Linked DNA regions of Homo sapiens. The protein of the gene in region 1 interacts with the protein of each later gene in a pairwise test. Each region holds a gene or a part of one and is shown on either strand. Other genes may lie near its edges.

Region 1 (3,750 bases):
CTGGTGTTGAACTCCTGACCTCAAGTGATCTGCCTGCCTCGGCCTCTCAAAGTGCTGGGATTACAGGTGTGAGCCACTGTCCCCGGCCTGCAACCTCTCTGACCTCCTCCTCTTCCTCACTCTGTTTCACCCACACCGTCCTCCTGGCTGTTCCTTGAACACCCCAGGTATATTCTCTGCTCCAGCTGGTCCTGCCACCTTCTATGCTAGTTCCTGCAAACATCCACTCAGTTACTCCCTCTCCTCCAAGTCTTTTTTTTTTTCTTTTTTTTTTGGAGACGGAGTCTTGCTCTGTCGCCCAGGCTGGAGTGCAGTGGCGAGATCTCGGTTCACTGCAAGCTCCGCCTCCTGGGTTCACGCCATTCTCCTGCCTCAGCCTCCCGAGTAGCTGGGACTACAGGCGCCCACTACCACAGCCAGCTAATTTTTTGTATTTTTAGTAGAGACAGGGTTTCACTGTGTTAGCCAGGATGGTCTCAATCTCCTGACCTCATGATCCGCCCGCCTCGGCTTCCCAAAGTGCTGGGATTACAGGCGTGATCCACCACGCCCAGCCCCACCTGGCCCATTTTTGTATTTTTTTAGTAGAGATGGGATTTCACCATATTGGCCAAGGTGGTCTTGAACTCCTGACCTCAGGTGATCTGCCTGCCTCGGCCTCCCAAAGTGCTGGGATTACAGATGTGAGCCACCACACCCAGCCTGGAACTGGGATCCTAACCCAGGTTTATTTGACTGCAAAGCACTTAACCCAGCAAGGCAGGAGAGCAGGATGGTTAAGAGCACAGAATTGGGCTGGGCGCAGTGGCTAAACGCCTGTAATCCCAGCACTTTGGGAGGCCGAGGCGGGCGGATCACTCGAGGTCGGGAGTTCAAGACCAGCCTGACCAACACGGAGAAACCCCGTCTTACTAAAAATACAAAAGTAGCCAGGCGTGGTGGCACATGCCTGTAATCCCAGCTACTCTGGAGGCTGAGGCAGGAGAATCGCCTGAACTCGGGAGGTAGAGGTTGCGGTGAGCCAAGATCGTGCCATTGCACTCCAGCGTGGGCAACAAGAGTGAAACTCCGTCTAAAAAAATAAAAAGAGCACAGAATCTAGCCAGGCACAGTGACTCCCACTTGTAATCCCAGCAATTCAGGAGGCTTGGACAGGAGGATTGCTTGAGCCCAGGATCTCGAGGCTGCAGTGAGCTATGAAGGCACCACTGCACTCCAGCCTGTTTTTTTGAGACAGAGCAAGACCTTGTCCCCTCAAAAAAAAAGAGTACAGAGTCTGGAATTGCAAGACTGGAGTGAGCAGCAGTGCCACATTTTAAAATAAAAGCTCTTTTTTCTTTATTTTTTTCCCCAGTCAGGATTTAGTTTGTATCAACAGGACCCCTTTGCCCCCTGCTGGTCAGACTTGGAGCCCCAGCTCCTCCTTGTGGGATGGAGTAGGGGGTCCTCCCTTGTGCCTGGCGCTCAGCCCTCTGCAGAGCATCACAGCTGAATGCGAAGCCCAGAACCCCACTGCAAGCTGGCTTCAGGGGCGTGGCTTTTCTTGTTGCCAGCCAGCCCAGTGCTTAACCCAGGTCTCAGAAGGCAGGAACTGAGCCCCCTAGGTCCCAGAGCCCCGGGGGCAGGCCAGTTTCTCAAGACCCTCTGTCCACTGCTGGTCCTGAGACCCTCACTCAGTTGAAGTCAGGGCTGAGTTTGTTCAGAAGCCCCAGCATGTGAAGGCCCCCAGCTGGCCTGGGCCAGCGCTCACCCTGGGGGAGCCTTGGGGACACATCTCATGTCCCCAGTGAGCTCTGCACTCTGCCTTCCTGGCCCTGTTGCCCACTGTGGCTCTGACCCCACTCCGGCCGCCCGTCCCGGAGTCCCACTCACCGTGTTTCACGTTGTCCTTCCACTCGCCCACATAGTAGTCGCCATTCACAGCGTATACCTGGCTCCGCAGGCCGTTCCTCTGGGCCTTCCGGTCCCACCCCTTCCACAGGGACTCCGACTTTTTTGGGCACTTAGAGACTGGCATGGTGGCTGCTTCTGCAAGGCTGGAGGGTGCTGGAAAGGGGTTAGGGACATCTGGGGCTCAGCGCGCCCCGTGTAATGCCGGGATCCTGAGCTCAAGTGGGGAGAGTCATGTGTGTTCTGAGTCCCTGGGGCAGGTGAACAGCCCTTAGTGGGGATCCTTTAGTGCTGGACTGACCTTTGGTTGGCCCCTCCCTTGCCTCTCCTGGGGCCCCCTCCCAGGGGGTCTGATGGCACAATTACTTGGGAATCTAGGGAAACCAGTAGAGCAGGAGGGTTTGTGATGGCATCAGGGAGAAGCTGCCCCCAGGGAGGGGGTGGCGGTCATATATACATATATATATATATATATATTTTTTTTTTTATGTCTTCTAAATATTTTTATTTATTTATGTATTTATTTATTTATTTAGAGATGGAATCTTGCTTTGTTGCCCAGGCTGGAGTGCAGTGGCACCATCTCGGCTTACTACAACCTCTGCCTCCTGGGTTCAAGTGATTCTCGTGCCTCAGCCTCCTAAGTAGCTGGTATTACAGGCGCCCACCACCACGCCTGGCTAATTTTTGTATTTTTAGTAGAGACGGGGGTTTCACCATGCTGGGCAGGTTGGTCTCAATTTCCTGATCTCAAATGATCCATCCACCTCAGCCTCTCCAAGTGCTGGGATTACAGGCATGAGCCACTGAGCCAAATATGAATCCAAAATATGAACCCAAAATATGGGTTACATATTTTGACAATCACACCTAGGAGTAGGGAAAAATAATTCCAGGCAAAGAAAATAGGCAGAGCAAAAGCTGGGAGTGGGGAAACAATCTCAGGTCCTAAATTCTATGCCGTTGGGATTTTTTCTTCTCCCATTTCCAAATATCACATGTACTATTAATCTTTATATGTAAATTAACTCACTTGGCAGAGGTTGCAGTAAGCCGAGATCATGCCGCTGCACGCCAGCTTGGATGACAGAGTGAGAACTTTTCTCAAGAAGAAAATAAAAATAAGTTAACTCACTTTAAAAAAATCAATACATATATTGAAAAAAGGAGGGCCAGGCGCAGTGGCTCATGCCTGTAATCCCAGCACTTTGGGAGGCCGAGGCGGGTGGATCACCTGAGGTCAGGAGTTCGAGACCAGCCTAGTCAACATGGTGAACCCTTGTCTCTACTAAAAATACAAAAATTAGCCAGGCCTGGTGGTACGCGCCTGTAATCCCAGCTACTCAGGAGGCTGAGGCATGAGAACAGCTTGAATCCAGGAGGCGGAGGTTGCAGTGAGCCGAGATTGCACCATTGCACTACAGGTTGGGAGACAGAGCAAGACTCAGTCTTAAAAAATAATAATAAAATAGGCCGGGCTCAGTGGCTCACGCCTGTAATCCCCAGCACTTTGGGAGGCCGAGGCGGATGGATCACCCGAGGTCAGGAGTTCAACACCAGCCTGGCCAACATGGCGAAACCCTGTCTGTACTAAAAATACAAAAATTAGCTGGGTGTGGTGGCGGGCGCCTGTAATCCCAGCTACTCGGGAGGCTGAGGCAGGAGAATCGCTTGAACCAGGGAGGAGAAGGCTGCAGTGAGCCGAGATTGCACCACTGCACTCCAGCCTGGGCGAGACAGAGTGAGACTCTGTCTCAAAAAAAAAAAAAGACTGGGCGCGGTGGCTCACGCCTGTAATCCCAGCACTTTGGGAGGCCGAGGCGGGTGGATCACGAGGTCAGGAGATTGAGACCATCCTGA
Region 2 (3,650 bases), on another chromosome or scaffold:
GGCGAAGGATATGAACAGACACTTCTCAAAAGAAGACATTTATGCAGCCAAAAAACACATGAAAAAATGCTCATCATCACTGGCCATCAGAGAAATGCAAATCAAAACCACAATGAGATACCATCTCACACCAGTTAGAATGGCGATCATTAAAAAGTCAGGAAACAAAAGGTGCTGGAGAGGATGTGGAGAAACAGGAATACTTTTACACTGTTGGTGGGAGTGTAAACTAGTTCAACCATTGTGGAAGACAGTGTGGCGATTTTTTTTTTTTTTTTTTTGAGACAGTCTCGCTGTGTCTCCCAAGCTGGAGTGCAGTGGTGCGATCTCAGCTCACTACAAGCTCCACCTCCCAACTTCATGCCATTCTCCTGCCTCAGCCTCTCGAGTAGCTGGGACTACAGGCACCCACCACCACATCCGGCTAATTTTTTTTGTATTTTTTTAGTAGAGACGGGTTTTCACTGTGTTAGCCAGGATGGTCTCCATCTCCTGACCTCGTGATTCACCTGCCTGGGCCTCCCAAAGTGCTGGGATTACAGGTGTGAGCCACCACGCCTGGCCTGGACTGTTCTTTTCATGGCAAAGCTCCTAGAAGAGAGAAAACAAACTCTAAATAAATAATAGCTATCATTACAATAAGCTGTAGCTAGTTTGATTAACAAATCATCCTAAAATATCCAGACAATATGAAAACATTATTCCTAAAATACTGGTCCCTCATATGCAGCAAGAAAGAAAGAATGAAAGTGATCTATAACAGATTACAACAAATCACACTGTAAAAGAATTCTCATGGTGGTCGGGGTTTGTAGCATGAAAAGATGGTTTCTTTCCTTTACAATGAAAAGAATTAATGAGTTTTTTTTTTTTAAGAAAAAAAACCTCTAGAAATAACTGACATTTGAAATACTTTACACAAAATAAATTGTCAATTTTGTTGTTACTGCCCACAAATACGGGAACCCTTAGCCTCCAATCAATGAAGCTAGAGTGTCTAGTTGCAACATATCATAGCTTTCAAGATTTCTCAAAACAGAGAACAGATTTTCATAAGTATATCTGAAAAAAGCTTCTACAGAAATGTGAGTCTCAGAGAATCCCCCAAGAGGAAATGTCTCACATACACACATAAATAGACAACCTAAAAAAGCACTACGTCTTTTCAAAGAGATGTTAATAGAATAAAATGTAAATTTATCTTAAATAACTAAAAAGCTAGTATAAAATCAACATTTGAGATTCCCAGAATATTTATAATATTTCCAATACAAACCGGTTAGCTTTACAAATAAGTGAGAATCCAACTAAATTAAAATTCAAATATGACTGAAATGTACCCATGTTATCCAAGAAAAATCAATAACCTTCCAATTCCTGAAGCTGGTACTTTATCTGTGAAGCAGTGTTGTATCATAGCTAGACAGATCACATCTCAGGCCAAGGTCCACACTAGCTACTTTCCAGCTGTGTGACCCTGGCTAAATAAACTCTCAGCTTCATTTTTTTTTCTTTTTTTTATTCTATTTTATTGAGATGGGGTCTCGCTATGTTACCCAGGCTGGCCTCAAACTCCCAAGCTCAAGTGATCCTCCTGCCTCAGCCTCCCACAGTGCTGGGATTACAGATGTGAGCCACCACACCTGGGCAGCTTCACTTTTCTTAAATGGAGATAACAGCTCTTCCATCAGGTCATGGGAAGACTAACTCAAATCATATCAGGATTCAGCTCATCTCATGCCTAAAACATATGAAAGCCGATGTATTACCTTTTCACGGGATCTCCCCGTTCTCACCCTCATGCACTCTACAGCTCTGGCCAAAGCCTTCCGCAGGTCATGATTGTTTTTTCTTAGACCTCAATCAGGGTTTCTCCTTCATCCTTTCAAGGTAAAGGGTGAGTCATCTTCCACCTACAGTAGCCATCTTACCACCACATTCAAACATTTAAATCCTTCAATTCCTTTCAAGGCCCAGGAGAAACTTAAATCCTCTCAAGCCCAACACAAACACTACCTCCTCCATGAAGCCCCCTAATTCCTTCAGGTCAATGTTTCTCAGCCCTGGCTCTACCCAATCATGGAGAGAATTTTAAAAAAAAATTAAACAAAATTATCTGAAGCCTGGGCCTTAGCACTGCTGTTGGTCTGAGGTGTGGCCCAAGCATCAGGGATGAAGTGACCTCTCCTTGCACTGAGACCCCACAACGCTTCAGCAGCCCTTTGTACAGGATGGTAGAAAAGTTATTGCTGTTTTCACCCTTAAAAGTAACGGTCAAAACTGCAGCTACTTTCACCAACCTAATACCTTATTTTAATCATATACAAATGCATTTAAAGTATAAACTTCTGGAAAACAGGATCAGTGTTTGATTTATATATCGCCCTCAAGTTACCACAACAACAGTAACTTAAATTGCTAGGCTGCCAGCTATCTCTTGAATGCACAGGTAAATAAATAACATTTCAGTGCCTCTGGAATATAGGATTCAAAGTCATGATTTGAAACAAAAGGTTATCAGTACCTGAATAAATAATCTCCATTTCAACAGCTCAGCTGTTAAGTTCTACTTATATAACTCAGCCAATGCATAAGGGAAGAAATGATTTATTCCAGACAGAGAGAAAACATCACTAAAATAAAGCTAGTACAGGGCTAAACACTTCAGTGGTCCCTCCCTTCCCACCTCCTACCATTCTAAAACACTTAAGAGTTCTCTAAATAGATCAAGCACCCTTCTTCCTCCATGCTTGGATATACACTGCAATCTTTAACCACATTCCTCATCTGGCTTTTACTTCTCATTCTGGAAACACCTTCTACGATGGAAAGCCTTCCCATAGGTGAAACTCCTGGTTCAATATTCCTCTTCCCTATTCCTTTAGCGTTTACTAATATTACTCATATCGCAGCAACTGTCAAAAAGAAATTATTGGCCAAGTGCCACGACTCACAGCTATAATCTGAGCTCTTTGGGAAGCCAAGACAGGAGAGGCACTGAGGAGTTTGAGACCACCCTGGACATCATAGTGAAATCTCATCTCTACAAAAAAAAAAAAAAACACTTAAAAATCTGCCAGGCATGGTGGCATGAGCCTATAGGCCTAGCTACTCAGGAGGCTGAGGCAGGAAAATCACTTCAGCACGGGAGTTTGAAGTTACAACGAGATATGATAGCACTACTGCACTCCAGCTTAGTAAACAGAGACCCTGTCTCTATAAAATAAATTATTGTTTCGCTTATCTAGTCACCTACAAGTTTCTTAGGGGTGGGGAAGCTCTCATCACTGTGACTATATCATCTTATATAATATATGGTACTTATGGGCCGGGCGCGGTGGCTCACGCCTGTAATCCCCACACTTTGGGAGGCCAAGGCAGCTGGATCACCTGAGGTCAGGAGTTCAAGAAAAGCCTGGACAACATGGTGAAACTCCATCTCTACTAAAAATACAAAAAATTAGCCGGACGAGATTGCACCATTGCACTCCAGCCTGAGAAACAAGAGTGAAACTCTGTCTCAAAAAAAAAAAAAAAGAAAAAAGAAAAGAAAAACCATAACCTATAGTACTTAGGAAGTGTTCAATAAATGCTGAAGGAATGAACGAATGAGGAAAAAGTCTTCAGTTTGTTCATCTGTACAAATGAAT
Region 3 (3,650 bases), on another chromosome or scaffold:
AATCCATTCATCTTCTCCTCGTGCCTTAGGGGGTTTTTGGGGATGTGTCCCAGGCGTCCTTTATTGTCCTTCTCAAAGAATTTATCTCTCTTGGCCAGGCACGGTGGCTCATACCTGTAATCCCAGCACTTTGGGAGGCCGAGGCGGGTGGACCTGAGGTCAGGAGTTCAAGACCAGCCTCACCGATATGGTGAAACCCCATCTCTCCTCAAAATACAAAAATTAGCCGGGCGTGGTGGCGGGCACCTGTAATCCAAGCTACTCGGGAGGCGGAGGCAGGAGGATTTCTTGAAGCCGGGAGGCAGAGGTTGCAGTGAGCTGAGATTGAGCCACTGCACTCCAGCCTGGGTGACAGAGCGAGACTCCATCTCAAAAAAAAAAAAAAAAAAAAAAAAAAAAAAAAAAAAAAAAATTATCTCAAGAGTTCCTTAAACCTCTTTTATCTAAAAGTTTATCTTAGATGACAACTTTCTTGAGATACTTTCTTACTGTGTGTGAAGTGACAGTTTTTGGTTTGAAGTTAATTTGGCAAAAATTTGGCTGTGGTACAAACTTGGTGTTCCCCATGCATTGTGGATTTGGATTTGTCATGCTTTTTAGTGTTAAAGATGACCCAGGCCTGCCTGGATTCTGGAGGGAAGTCTACTCTCAGCACTTCCTATGAACAGACTTGTTAGTTATTTGTTTGTTTTATCCTGCACAGTTAGGCTAGTTTACTGCCCACTCGTGTTTGAACCTGAAGGTAACTTTAAGGCACAGCCTTCGGATTTAAGTGCAGAAATGTTTTCTGCTAAAAATAGCATACATTTATGCAAAAAATAAACATGCTACTATCTTCTTCAGTATGAAGATGGAACGTAGAGTTTACGCCTCTTCACAGCCAGAAGCTGCTAAAGACTAACTTTTGGCAGAGACTGTGTAGAGGTATAAATAAGCCGTGACTCCTAGCCTGCCATGTCCCTCACTTGTCCTAGGAGAGAATGTAGAGCATAAAAGCCCGCATGGTAGGCTGCTTCGTTTGATAGTGATTTTTTGCTATGAGTAGCAACATAGAGCTGTGCCAGCCTGGAGGCCCCAGGTCTCCTTTGGCTTTCTTTGCAGAAGCTGTTTGTGTGGCAGTTCCATCAGTTCTGGCCAGCAAGTCCCTAGCTTCTTGCCAGCACGATATTAAGATGCTTCTAAAACCCTAATGGGCATCATCAGTTAGCAATGTACTTATTTTCTGTTCTTTAGTGAAGTGATGTCTGGTTATTCGAAGCATTTGCATTTCTAGTGAGAGAAAGTGAATTACCCCAGAAGTCTTCCCTCCCACCTGCCCCCAAGTCTATGGACTGTGTGATGTAGTTACATAGATCATGATATAGCTTACAGTTCAGCACAGGCCCTTGCAAATTTTATTTTAGAATCCAGTGAGAAGAAAAGCATTGTTGCCTCCCAGCCCACCCTCCTGCCCACCCCTGTGGGAACTGGCGAACCTATCTTTCTTGATAATGGGACATTGCTGTAACTTGGTTTCCAGGGGTCTGCTGGCCGGATGCGAAATAACCACATCCATGTACTACACTTGTGCTCTTCTCTTGGGTCTGATTCTGGGCTGCTGTGTACCATTTGTTCTTTCCTTCCTTCAGGCCTCTGTAGTGAGCTGTTCCACATCTGGTAAAGAGAGGCCTGTCGATGATGAGGATGGTAGATAAATGGATCAAAACTGAAGTTCTTCCCTGACAGTGTCCCCTGAAATTGGGTTCCTTTGCAGTACACCATTTTGAATTCTGAAGCTATTAATATGGGAAGTTCAGGGTATTAAAAAATAGATAAATCAGTGCCATATAGTCTTACTCCTCACTTGGCTTGGTGTGGATATACCAGGGTTGGCAGTTATCTGCGTTTTTTTTCTCCCTGTGTCTTATTTCTAACTTTAGTCCAACGAGAGTTTGGGGTTGATGGTCGTCACCGGGGAGGAAGCAGAGTCCCTGAACTGATCCTGGGTCCGTATCGGTGCCATTCCGTGTTCTTGGTAGATTTTCAGAATTCCCAGATAATGGTTCCCAAAGTTTTCTAGCTTCTGGTCATGGAAGGATGCCCAGAAGACGTCCTAGATCTTACATACTTAAACCTGTCTCTGTACCACTGCTAAGAGTCCCGTCACATCCAAGCTGTCACCTAGGTGATGTATCCCTGTTACTGCCTTCCATATTTACTGTGTTCTCACTTGTAAAACAGAGCAATGTTTGAATGCTGGAGACCTCTGCCATGTGGAATTTGAAAATGTCGGGTGAGGATTTCTTGAGTTGACTGAGTGGTGTTTTGCTACAACCTGTAGAGCTTTGTGACCTGGTTTCACCTCATGGCTCTGAGGGTTCCAGAGAAGGGAAAGGTGCCCCTTGACTGAGGACGCAGTGGCAGGTCATCTGCCTGTCCTGGGTCACTGCCCTGAGGTGCAGTCAGCTCTCCCGCCCTGTTATTCAGGAGTCTGGTTCCTGCTATTTAGAGGAGACCAGTCAGCATTTTTCCCCCGTTGCGTCCTTTCCTGTCTGAAGATCACATCTGTCATGCTGCTGTCTCTCCTTTTCTGTGACTGTCTCTCCTCTTGCTGGTGCTCCCTGGTTGTCCCACGGTGGAGGAACCCACCCTGTCAGTGTTTTGCTTACAGCCCTCATGCTCTGAATGGAACCCATTTCTGTCGCGGGTATGATGGTGCACAGTTCAGTAGTAGGTTGCCTGCTCTCTGATTTTATTCATCAACCAATTTCTTGCACATTTAAAGGAAATTCAGAGGGAACTCATAATATGAAGGGGAAGCTTTTCATTTTTCATGTTTTTTCTCATAATGCTGTCAGTTGTTTTAAATGCATGTCTTTTTTGTGGGTCTGTAACAGTGTCTTTGTGCTTTTTCTTGCTCTTATTTTATTAGGTCGTGGAGTCAGATTTGAGTGATGATGGCAAAGCATCTTTGGTGAGCGAGGAAGAGGAAGATGAAGAAGAAGATAAGGCTACCCCTAGAAGAAGCAGGTCTAGAAGAAGTAGTATTGGTCTTCGAGTAGCCTTTCAGTTCCCCACCAAGAAGCTGGCCAACAAACCAGATAAAAACAGTTCTTCCGAGCAGTTGTTTTCTAGCGCACGCTTACAGAATGAGAAAAAAACAATTCTTGAAAGAAAGAAAGACTGTAGACAGGTGATACAAAGGGAAGATTCTACCTCTGAGTCTGAGGATGACTCTCGGGATGAGAGCCAGGAGAGTTCAGATGCTTTGCTGAAAAGGACCATGAACATCAAGGAGAACAAAGCCATGGTGAGGCTTCACGGAGGGCGTCCTGGGAGTTGGCACCAGGCTCTGGCAGCAGTTGCTGGGCTCCCAGAACCACTTTGCTCCTACAGCTGCTGCTGTTGCTTTGGCTTCTGTCAAGAAAATATACTCTGGGTATTGTGTATCCTTTTACTTTTCCAGAACCCAGAGCAACTATTACATGATCAGCTCTGGTTTGGGAACAGAAAGAGATTCCCCAGCACCATTTTTAGCCCCTACATGGTGCCATAATGCTGCTTACTGTTGACCAAGCTAAGTTCTAAGTATATAGTTGTGTTGGGGATGAGAGGGGCTGAACAACTAGCCCGTTCCCAGCAGAGTAAAGCAGGGGAAGTGGGATGTCACC

What was found.
Region 2: the proteins of MORN3 (region 1) and FARS2 interact in binary tests that used the Homo sapiens proteins (3 or more experiments, as listed by UniProt).
Region 3: the proteins of MORN3 (region 1) and CDCA7L interact in binary tests that used the Homo sapiens proteins (3 or more experiments, as listed by UniProt).

The regions. Positions count from the first base shown.
Region 1 is NC_000012.12:121,667,467-121,671,216, forward strand, and holds the start of MORN3 (MORN repeat-containing protein 3), read right to left. Parts: upstream 2,189-3,750; 5' UTR 2,018-2,188; coding exon 1,873-2,017; intron 1-1,872. UniProt on the Homo sapiens protein: Assembles a suppression complex (suppresome) by tethering SIRT1 and MDM2 to regulate composite modifications of p53/TP53.
Region 2 is NC_000006.12:5,264,383-5,268,032, reverse strand, and holds part of FARS2 (phenylalanine--tRNA ligase, mitochondrial), read right to left. Parts: intron 3,044-3,650; exon of another isoform or gene 2,955-3,043; intron 592-2,954; exon of another isoform or gene 510-591; intron 1-509. UniProt on the Homo sapiens protein: Is responsible for the charging of tRNA(Phe) with phenylalanine in mitochondrial translation.
Region 3 is NC_000007.14:21,907,769-21,911,418, reverse strand, and holds part of CDCA7L (cell division cycle-associated 7-like protein), read left to right. Parts: intron 1-2,911; coding exon 2,912-3,289; intron 3,290-3,650. UniProt on the Homo sapiens protein: Plays a role in transcriptional regulation as a repressor that inhibits monoamine oxidase A (MAOA) activity and gene expression by binding to the promoter.